Homo sapiens: one gene and its partners. The protein of the gene in region 2 purifies or fractionates together with the protein of the main gene of each other region. This does not show direct contact. Each region holds a gene or a part of one and is shown on either strand. Other genes may lie near its edges. The genes, in order: HSF1, BAG2 and DNAJB4.

The links.
Region 1: the proteins of BAG2 (region 2) and HSF1 purify together in Homo sapiens (affinity purification with mass spectrometry; 3 studies listed by BioGRID and IntAct, with this or other methods). This does not show direct contact.
Region 3: the proteins of BAG2 (region 2) and DNAJB4 purify together in Homo sapiens (affinity purification with mass spectrometry; 4 studies listed by BioGRID and IntAct, with this or other methods). This does not show direct contact.

What each region holds. Positions count from the first base shown.
Region 1 is NC_000008.11:144,294,413-144,298,241, reverse strand, and holds part of HSF1 (heat shock factor protein 1), read right to left. Parts: intron 1-3,829. UniProt on the Homo sapiens protein: Functions as a stress-inducible and DNA-binding transcription factor that plays a central role in the transcriptional activation of the heat shock response (HSR), leading to the expression of a large class of molecular chaperones, heat shock proteins (HSPs), that protect cells from cellular insult damage.
Region 2 is NC_000006.12:57,182,280-57,186,108, forward strand, and holds part of BAG2 (BAG family molecular chaperone regulator 2), read left to right. Parts: intron 1-1,498; coding exon 1,499-1,911; 3' UTR 1,912-3,829. UniProt on the Homo sapiens protein: Co-chaperone for HSP70 and HSC70 chaperone proteins. Acts as a nucleotide-exchange factor (NEF) promoting the release of ADP from the HSP70 and HSC70 proteins thereby triggering client/substrate protein release.
Region 3 is NC_000001.11:78,003,293-78,006,892, forward strand, and holds the start of DNAJB4 (dnaJ homolog subfamily B member 4), read left to right. Parts: upstream 1-1,646; 5' UTR 1,647-1,818; coding exon 1,819-2,029; intron 2,030-3,600. UniProt on the Homo sapiens protein: Probable chaperone. Stimulates ATP hydrolysis and the folding of unfolded proteins mediated by HSPA1A/B (in vitro).

The DNA of each region.
Region 1 (3,829 bases), on a different chromosome or scaffold from region 2:
GGCAACCCCTACCTTAGGGGCCATTATGAATTTCACAGGGTCTGCTGGTGAACCCATCAGAGAACCCAGTGTCTCTCTCATCTTCCTGCCTCAGTGGAACAAGGTCCCTCCTCTGCTGACCACAGGCACCTCTTGGAGGAGTCACCGGTCATAACTGGATATCACGAAAACCTGCCACTGGAAATGGGAGGCCCCTGGCTGGTGCGAGATGCCACACGCTGAGAAGTGTAGGTGTCAGCAAACCCCGCAGCTTGCAGTAAACTTGGAGCCTGTGGCCTCATTTTCTGCAGCACTGTGAAGGACCTGAAATGTGTGTGAGATCCTGCCTGTAGGGACACCTTACATAGAAAGTGTCTGTGTCTCTGAGTATCTTCTCAAAGGGCTCCCTGGCCCAAAACGTGAACAGTGCCGTATTCTACAAGGTGGCCCCACAGCCCAGGCCACAAGCCTCTTGTTCCAGCCTCCTGCCAAGTCAAAGCTGTATCTGCTGACCGGTGATCTGGGCTCCTGGGCTCGGCTGGCCGGCTGTTCCCTCTCCGGGTCCCGGGAGTATAGGCTTTAGGAGCAAAGGGAGCGCGTGTGTGAGTAGCTGTGGCCCACGTGTGGGGAGCAGGGACCACCGGAGTCAGGGCATGGAAGCAGTGAGGCAGGCAGGAAGCGCGAGCAGGTGCAGACAAAGTGGCTCACTTTGTGGCCCCGTTCCCTGGTCTGGTTCTGTCCACATCTGAGCCACCCGCACCTTTCTCATAAACACTCTTCTTGTTTCCGCTCTGGAGGAGCTTCCAGCGTGTTCTCGCCACACAAGGACCAAGAGCAGCACAATCGCCCTCATCTCTCATCACATCTCGTCACTGGCTGCCGTGCACAAGTGTGGTGGCTACTGCTGCTCACCATGGCCCACAGGGTCACAGGGAGGAGGCTGAGGCAGCAGCAGCCCTTGCTGCCAGGTGCCTTGAGACATTTGGGACCACCTCCTTTCCTTAGACAGCCTCCCCTCCACCTGCCAGACCTTGAGGAGACCCTGGAGCCAACAGCCCTCAATATACCCGATGGGAGCTGCTTGCTTCCTCTGGGAAGGCACTGTGAGCCCCACCGACCCCTCTCCAGCTCGCCCTGCACACAGGCTGACTCCTCCAAAACTGAGAGACTTTCAGGGCCAGGCTGTCCATCCCTGGTCCCTCAATAAAGGACTGAGCAAACACTAGCCTGTGGAGTTGGGTGGGCATGGGGCACCGGAGGCATCTGCCTCCCCCCAGGAGGCCACTGCAGCTCAGCCCTTCTGTGCCCTGGGCCCCTCCTCACCGCACCCCCCCCACCACACCATCCGGGGCAGAGGAAACACAGGAGGCTACAGCACAGAGCCTTTTTAATTTTTTCTGTGCTATGCACAGAAGCTGTATGAGGACAGATGTGTGCCTTCTTTTTTTTTTTTTTTGAGATGGAGTCCCGCTCTGTCACCCAGGCTGGAGTGCAATGGCGCGATCTCAGCTCACTGCAAGCCCCGCCTCCTGGGTTCACGCCGTTCTCCTGCCTCAGCCTCGCAAGTAGCTGGGACTACAGGCACCCACCACCACGTCCAGCTAGTTTTTTGTATTTTTTAATATAGACGGGGTTTCACCATGTTAGCCAGGATGGTCTCAATCTCCTGACCTCCTGATCTCGTGATCCGCCCACCTCAGCCTCCCAAAGTGCTGGGATTACAGGCGTGAGCCACCACGACCAGCCCCAGCTGTGTGCCTTCTTATGGCCACACCAGGAGGCACTATGGTCCGGGCACACATCAGGCCCTCCAGACCCTGCAGCACTTCTCACAGCTGCTGCTGTGGGGCCTCCAGCATCTTGGGCCAAATACCAGATCTTCCAGGGTGGGGCCAGTGGGCCTGCTGGGTCTTGGCGGCTCTCAGAACCAGGGAAGCAGGGGTGGCCCTGCCTGCCGTGGGAGCTCCGGACACGATCTGTGACCAGGGTCTGAGTGACTGAGCGTGGCCAGGTCGGCTCTGCTTCTGCAACTCCTCGTGTGCTTATGAGTGGACGCCCTGCCCTGCCTTACTTCAGGGACCCCTCAGGCCCTGCCCCCTGCCTCACTGCAGGGACCACTCTGCTCCCAATTGTCCACCCAGAGACCCTCCACAGCGGCCACCTGACCACTGGCTTTCAATGGAACTCTCTCCCGCGATAGGCCGAGGGCCTTGGTGACCTCCAGCTCACTCAGTCTCAGGGAGCCCCAGGGTTTCAGCACATCCTTCTAGAGTCTTTCCAGCTGCACCCATGAGGCTGGGGCCAGGTGAAGACAGAGAAGCATCCAGGAGCCCACATCTAAGGAGGCCCCCACTCCCAGCGCCATCCGAATGCAGGTAGGTCTTAAAAAGGAATGCCTCAGGGCCAGGCGCGGTGGCTCAAGCCTGTAATCCCAGCACTTCGGGAGGCTGAGATGGGAGGATGGCTTGAGCCCGTGAGTTCCAGACTAGCTTGGGCAATACGGCGAGACCCTGTCTCTACTAAAACCTTAAAAAGAAAAAAAAAAAAAAGCCAGGTCTGGTGGTGCAAGCCTGTAGTCCCAGTGACTCAGCTGAGGTGACTGGATCACTTGAGCCTGGGAGGCAGAGGCTGCAGCGAGCTGCAATCATAGCCCTGCACTCCAGCCTGGGCAACAGAGCGAGACCTTATCTAAAAAACAAAAAGTGCTTCCTTAAATTTTGCACCCAGGTGCCCCCTCTGGCCTCACCCTGATCCTGAGGCCTCCGTCTACCTGGGTTCGTTCTAACCTGCGTGACCATCATTCTAGCATTTGTCTGGCACAGGTCATGTGGCTGTGCCTTGTTCTCAGGCTCCTCAGCCAGCTGGGTGGCTCCTGGGGCTGTAATCTCACCATCTCAGATGTCGAGATTACTTTTCATACTTCCTTATCTTGTTAATAAAGATGGGACAAAATCATAGCTTGTAAAAAACTGGGATGATGGTGAACCCAGTTCTGAGGCTTCACTTTCTGCTTTTGTTTGGTTCTCCATGCTGTCAAATTCTCTGAAGAGGCTGTTGCCCTCCTGAGTCAGCTGCAGCCCAGCAAGGCCCTAGAAGAGCCTCTGCTGGTGGACAGAGGAGCTGCTGCATGCAGACGAGGAAGCTGGGCTGAGGGCCGGCACCAGGGCACGGGGCAGGGAGGCTGCGGGTCCCGGGTCTCATGGGTCTCAGTTCTATGGAGGTGCCTGTCAGTCCAGGTATTCAGTCCCCCAACCCCGTCTTTGGGTCTCAGTGGTACTGGATCCAGGTGTACCTTTGGGAGAAGCTGTTGAGAAGCTGGCTGAGGGAGGACCACCCACGTGCACGCCCATGCTCTTATGTGGATCCCCGGGATCATAACCTTGTGGCTGACACATTTCCTCTCCAAGGCTGTGCTGTCCTCCACGACTTGCTGGGTCCCCTCAAGGCCCTTGCCTGTGTGGGTGGGGTGCTCATGGGAATGAGGGTCTTGGGAGGGGGGGGTGGGAAATCAAACAACACAGGGATGGGGTAGCTGCCACAGTCCCCACCAATGGGGTCTCCTGGGCAGTGACCCGGCATTCTGCCTCCAGTGGCTGCAGTGGGAGTCCTGATCTCAGGCCAGGGAGGGGACGTGCAATGGTGGTCCAGACCTGGTCCCATTCCTGGCCAGGCTCAGTAAAGTTACTGGCCAGTTTCTGGGCCTCGGTCTCCCCCAGGTTATTCAGCCTTGAGAGTTAGTCACCATGCCTGTGATTCTGCCTCATCTTCTTGTGTCAAATAGGGAGGGTTTTTCTTGGCAGAATGGTGGTAAGACTCTGAGCCAGAAGGAGACTCTCCCAGAGAAGGCAGC
Region 2 (3,829 bases):
TGCAGCTGTCAGTTCATTACAGCAGCCACTTACTCAGAGATTTCTTCCAGCATGCTCTCTACCCCAAGCCCCTGGCTAGGAGAGATAGGAAAAAGCCTGCAAGCTCAGAAAAGCTGGCCCCAAGCAGTAAGGCCATGTGTTTTATCCCAGGTTCACAGTCCTAACTTCAGTTCCTCACAAGTTACTGGACTGCAAGAGATTAAAAAAGCAGAGGAAGAGGGTGAGAGAGTGGAAGCAGAGAAGTAGAGACCAAAAAAAAAAAAAAAAAAAAGATGAATTGAGGTACAACATAAAGAGAAGGGACAAAATGCAGAGAAAATGAGGAAACTTGTAGGACCAATAAAAGGCATGAATGTAAAAATGTGCTGTCATTTTCTTTTTTCTTTTTTTGAGATGGAGTTTTACTCGTCACCCAGGCTGGAGTGCAATGGCGCGATCTTGGCTCACTGCAACCTCTGCCTCCTGGGTTGAAGCGATTCTCCTGCCTCAGCCTCCCGAGTAGCTGGGATTACAGGCACGTGCCACCACGCCTGGCTAATTTTTATATTTTTAGTAAAGACAGGGTTTCACCATGTTGGCCAAGCTGGTCTCAAACTCCTGACCTCAGGTGATCCGCCTGCCTCAGCCTCCCAAAGTGCTGGGATTACAGGCATGTGACATCTGCCTAACCTGTGCTGTCATTTTCATGTGAAGAACATGAAATAGGAATAGGTCACTTCTGATTTTCTTTTATTGGCACTGGACTTCCTACTTGGGCTCCTTTGGTGCCACACAGGCCACATGGTACTGGGCCAAGTGGCTGGTGAGGTAAGTAAGCAACCTAAATCCAGATCAAAACTGTTACACATCTATAGGTAGGCCATGATCTAGTCTCTACGCTATCCTGCCCAAAGATCAATGAATTAGGAAGTTACAGAAGCAGGAGCTTGCTGACTTTCTCATATAAATAATGAAATGTTGATAGAGCTCCTCGTGCTGGCCAAGACTTTAGACCACTGTCCTGCTTCTATCTGGAGAAGGATGAAGTCAGTGCCTAGTATTGACGACAGAAGACAGCTTATCTTCTATCGTGGCTACATTTTCTCAACCAAAATTTGGGGCATTGTATTCTGATAAATGCACATGTCGTTCTGGAGAGATCTGGGACATCTGATCTCTGGAGCTCTACCCAGCATAAACCCTATATGTGCTTACTGCTCACAGTGTTAAGACTTGATCTCCATCCCAGTTACAAATGCATACCTACCCAAACTTTTGCAGACATGCCAATTTGAGAAGTCATCTGGTATCCCATATATGCAGATTGTCAGGAAGTGGTATTCTACAACCTCTTTCTGTAATCTAATACATTTCATCAGTTAATCTTACATGCTATAGTTTCAGCTTTTATCTCTAAAAAAATTTCATGGCAGAGGTAAAGAAAATAATAAATTTAGTCACAAACAAATGCCTTAATGTTTTTGACACAGATAAGTTTACATCTCATATTGATTTTTAGGAGAAAGAGAAGAATTAAATCTGACTGCAAACCGTTTGATGGGAAGAACTCTCACCGTTGAAGTGTCAGTAGAAACAATTAGAAACCCCCAGCAGCAAGAATCCCTAAAGCATGCCACAAGGATTATTGATGAGGTGGTCAATAAGTTTCTGGATGATTTGGGAAATGCCAAGAGTCATTTAATGTCGCTCTACAGTGCATGTTCATCTGAGGTGCCACATGGGCCAGTTGATCAGAAGTTTCAATCCATAGTAATTGGCTGTGCTCTTGAAGATCAGAAGAAAATTAAGAGAAGATTAGAGACTCTGCTTAGAAATATTGAAAACTCTGACAAGGCCATCAAGCTATTAGAGCATTCTAAAGGAGCTGGTTCCAAAACTCTGCAACAAAATGCTGAAAGCAGATTCAATTAGTCTTCAAACCTAAGAGCATTTACACAATACACAAGGTGTAAAAATGATAAAATACTATTTTAATTGATAACTAGTTCTTTGTTAGGTATAACCACTTAGTTGACACTGATAGTTGTTTCAGATGAGGAAAATATTCCATCAAGTATCTTCAGTTTTGTGAATAACAAAACTAGCAATATTTTAATTATCTATCTAGAGATTTTTTAGATTGAATTCTTGTCTTGTACTAGGATCTAGCATATTTCACTATTCTGTGGATGAATACATAGTTTGTGGGGAAAACAAACGTTCAGCTAGGGGCAAAAAGCATGACTGCTTTTTCCTGTCTGGCATGGAATCACGCAGTCACCTTGGGCATTTAGTTTACTAGAAATTCTTTACCTTAAGCAGCACACACATTTACTACACACACAGTGTTAACAAAGCACTGTGCTTAGAGGGTAAAAAGGAATCACAAAACAAGAATCTTTCCAAAGTTGTCTCATTCAGCAATGTTAAGGCATCTGTATCAAATTATTTTGGATGTAAAGATTCCTGTGTCTCATAATATGAATGTATTTTTTGATATACAAGAAACTGACATAAAATGTGAGAAAACCACCTATAATTTACCACTGTGAACAATTATATATCTATCTGCTTCATCTTTTCTCAAATGCATCAATTCTCTAAAATTCCTATATTGTAACTTGCCTTTTTTTAAAAAAGTTAGATGCTGATATAAAGTCTGCTTAATTGTCAACTTAATGAGCTCTATTTTGTGTAGTTATATCTTTATCCATTCCTCTTTTATGGACATTTAGGTTGTTTCCAACTTGTTGCTATTACTGCAACATATTTTTGTACACAGGACTTTTTCCTTCTTTCATTTTTGTTTTTCTCTGTATAAAGGCCCAGCAGTGAATTATATTGGGTCAAAGGATATAGACGTTTTCATGGCCTCACACATATTAAACTTTTTTTGTATAAAGGTTACAGCAATTTATACTTTTTTCAGTAATTAAAATATAGCTATTTCACTGAAATATTTCCAGCACTGAGCATTAATACCTAGTTTGCATTTTGTTTACTAAAAAGGTTGACCAGTGTGTTGATTCTTCTTTTATCTGATAAAGTGTGAAGCAACTAGAGAACACTTATTTGTTCAAAGTAACTAGTCCTATTGATATACAAAAACCACAACAACTTCCCTGGATACTATTTTGAAATGAACACATCAATTTTTATTTGAATGTAGGTATTCTTCACACTGAAAAACCAAATCAAGATCCAAACTGACTTTATGTATGTATATATCTCTCAATGCAAGCAATATCAAACTTCATTTTCTCTACAAAAATGCCAAGTTAGTCTCTTTATAAAAAGCAGTTACAATCTGAAGACATTCATGTTACTTCCTTTGCCAGCTCCAACTCTGCCTTATTTAAATCTTTGCATTTCATGGGAAACATTAATTCTATCTATGGCAGAGCCACTTGGTTTGTTAGCAGACTGATTTGCTGTCATCAGACTGTGAGATGATTTTTTGTGTGCATCATTTTTTTCTTGACCAGCTTTTTGAAAATTAAGAAATGGATAGTCATGTTTTCTTCAGGTTCTCAAGTATTGTCAGCATCCGTAAATCCCTTCCACTCTGGGAAATACTACTGCTCCCTGCTTCCCATGGCTTCCACATCAGTCCAGGACTTTTTCTACACAAATTATTCTGGCTCTGCCTCCTTGACCTTGGTATTCTTAGCATTATTTTTCCCATTTTTTTGCAATGGAGTTTTTAATGGAGGTCATTGATTTCTGATCACAGACTTGAAGAGCTATGATCCACATTTCCAAGCTGCTTGGGGTCCCTGGTTTACAGTGTCTCCAGCATTCTGTACCTAGAGCCACATCTAAAGGGCAGGGAATCTCCAGTGTGGTTTTT
Region 3 (3,600 bases), on a different chromosome or scaffold from region 2:
TTGATATTATTTCTTGGTGAGGCTAAAAAAATTGATAAATAGCTGACAAACCTCTGTAACCTACAGGTAGGCTAGATCAATGTTATACATTTCTAATGTCATGGTGTTGTTAAAGTAGAGAATTTTGAAGAGTAGAAAATCGTAGCTGTCAAAATGCACAAAGATGAACATTCAGAAAGAATTGCTGAATCATCATTGCTTGGCATATAGAGTAGGCGTTCTCATTTCTTTAAAGGTTAACACATGATTATTACCCTTTATTATATTCTAAACATATATGTACATTTTCTTTTCCTCATAAAGGTTTTCTAACATTTTATTTGGACTGTGTGCAATTCTTCTGACTTTTCTTATTTATCTCTCTAATAGAAATGGGAACATTTTTGAAAAGATGAGAAAACCATACAGGAGATAAAAGATGAGTTATATACATAGAAAATGTCTCATAAATACCTGAAATATGTTATACTTTCAAAAGCAGGCATCAAAAGGGTATATAAATGCTATGATCTAACTTTGTTAACAAAAAATTATAAAACTACAGCAAATAACCATGAAGATTTATAGAAAACAGAATTAGAAGTAAATACAGTAATATTTAACAGGGATTACCTAAAATGATATTATAGGGAGATTTTTAAAAACTTTTTTCTGCGTTTTCCAAAATCTCCAACAATGAATATATATTTATAATTAGGGAAATGTGTTTTTGAAAGAAAAAATATTTCTCATATTACTGCCCCTTAAGTGGCATATCCAAATTTTACATTGATGCAGTTGCAGTTAAGTCTTGTAAGGAACATGAGTATGTACTGTCTGTAACCTGATACTTTGTTCTAGCTTTCCTGCAGCACCACAGTTCTTTAAATAGGGATCCTGTGGGGCGGCTGCAGGGGACGGGGGTTGAGGGGTGGCAGGGACCTCATTCAGTTTTAGTTTAGTTGAAGTAACTAAGTTCAGATACTAAAATTTCAAAAATAAGTATTTGTTTGCCAGAACTATGAACTCATGTATACTAGAAATAACTAGTTAGCTAAAATCATGTTTAAGTCCTTTACTTATTTTAAAATAACGCATTTGAATTTTATTATAGATACTCCCTTAACAATGTGAAACTAGTACACAAACTTTCTGGCGTTTCTGATTGATAGACCCCAGGAATTTTGAAGACGACATAAATTACTTGGAAATCCTAATTTAAACAACCTGCGTTTTGGTATTATATACTTAACAGACAAATAGCTTAAAATTAAAAAATCCCTAAAGTAGAATTGTCGTTCCTTTTATCTGTATATTAACTTTAACTTCTTTTAACATAGGGTGTTTAATGACTGTGATGATTTTCACCTAGTATGGAGTACATAAATATATAGTTGTGACATTCTGTGTTGAAATATTGGCATGTTAACCCATTTGTCCTGTTTAATTAGGAAATAAAGACGGTAGAGCTAGTCGGAAAATGAATAGTTAATCGTGGAGGAGGAGAAAACATAGCTCAGTACTTTGACTAGAGGCAGCTGGGAAAGTGACGTCCTGTAGCATTTGCTGTTCTAGAAAGTACAGAGACACGTAGTGAAAATGGGAGGATCTAGAAGGAGGCTGTCTCCTGTGTAGTGTATATTTATCTGTAAGTGAGCCGTTGGGGAAGGATTGAATACAGAGACGCTGTCTGCTTGCTGCCTTAAGACAGCTAGCTGAATTGCTGATTAACTTTTAAAATACCCAGCTTGGTTTATTTTTCTTAGAATCTGTTGCTAAGACTGGGGACGCTGTTTTCTTTTACAAAGGGAAATCTAAGTTAATTTCAAGGCATTCGAAATGGGGAAAGACTATTATTGCATTTTGGGAATTGAGAAAGGAGCTTCAGATGAAGATATTAAAAAGGCTTACCGAAAACAAGCCCTCAAATTTCATCCGGACAAGAACAAATCTCCTCAGGCAGAGGAAAAATTTAAAGAGGTCGCAGAAGCTTATGAAGTATTGAGTGATCCTAAAAAGAGAGAAATATATGATCAGTTTGGGGAGGAAGGTAAGTATTCTCTGTATATCTTTCTGTCTCTTCAGCTCTGTCTCTTTTTTTTTTTTCTCTCTCTCTGCCAGCCTTTTTCCCCTCTCTCTCAGCTTGTTAAGGTTATCCTTAAATTGGATTCTCAGTCATATCAAAAGTAGAAGGACAAATGTATAATAACAAGGTTTCATCTCTGATCATATGAATGAGTATTGCAGAGCCATGAATGAAATGTCCTTGTTTGCCTTTTTTATTTTAGCATTTTGTATTATACATATTTTATCATTAGACTTACAATGTTAACAATGTATATTTTAAAATAAACCTTGAATTCCCATACCTATTAGTAAATTGTGTCAAAAGTCTTATGAAACCTGTTTCGTTTTCTAATGAATTTTCTGCCAGAACCAATAAAGAGTCTTTAGTCATTTAAAACCTTAAGATTGGCATTTCAGATTCTGAGTAGTTTATAGCTTATTCACAAAAACAAAAAGTAGTTTTTTGCCTTTCTTATAGCAAGGCTAGTTTAGACTGAACAAGACAGAGTTGTGACTCTCAGAAGCAGAAGGCGCAGGCATTTAGCTTCTAGTTGTTTTTGGCATTCTGCCTGGAGAGGAAAGAATTTTCCTGATGTCATAAAATACCAGAACAAGTTTTTAGCTTAATTGTAAACAATAATTTTGTGCCAAGAAAATGAAATCTCAGAAATACAATTTTTGACCTAAAATGGCCACCTAGTTAGAATAATTACTGATTTACTTTTAGATAACATTATTTATTTAGAAATTTTACTATCTAGGTATAGAGAAAAACATGACAACTTCCCTTTCCTCTCCCTGCCATACTTTTGTTTTTTGCATTGTGAGATCAAAAACTAGTGAGCACAGTAAAGGAGGATAATTTCAGATTATCCTTTTCTCATTCTGCATTTTAAATCAGGTTTGTCCATCACTTCCATATAAACGGGGCTATGAAGTAAGACTATTTTAAATTGCTAATTGATAACACAAAAAACTTTAACTTGTACTGTTTTGGGGATTTTCAACTTTTAACATCAGGACTAAGTTATTTTATTATTAGTTTTTCTCCCAAAATACTGGCTTTCAAATCACTGTAGCTATGAAAACTTGTTATCCCTTTGATTCCTTTATTACATTTAACATCAAATTTTCCTAATTAGAAATATATCCTTAAAATATAGTCAAGCAGTGACTGCTTATTTTGAATGAAACAAATTAAATGTAGACAAGCAGGGTGATTGTATATAGAGGGTTTTTTCCTTTTTGTTTTGTTTAGCTTTTTTGGTCTATGAGTTGCCCAAAATTGAAGTTTATGTTGCAGGTTTTGGTGTGGTGAGGACCTACAGTGTCAGGTTCTTACAAAGTAAATATTGAAAAAGGCAAATACTGGGCAGTTCAATCTTGCATGATACCTATGGCCATATTACCCAAAATATCATGACTTGGTTTATCTCAAAAGCTAAGCAGGATTCTGAGATACTACCAATAATGTACTACTATTTCTAAAGGAGTAATTTTGTAATTTTGTAAAGAAATTCACAAACATGGAATGACACTGTGAATTCCTGTGAA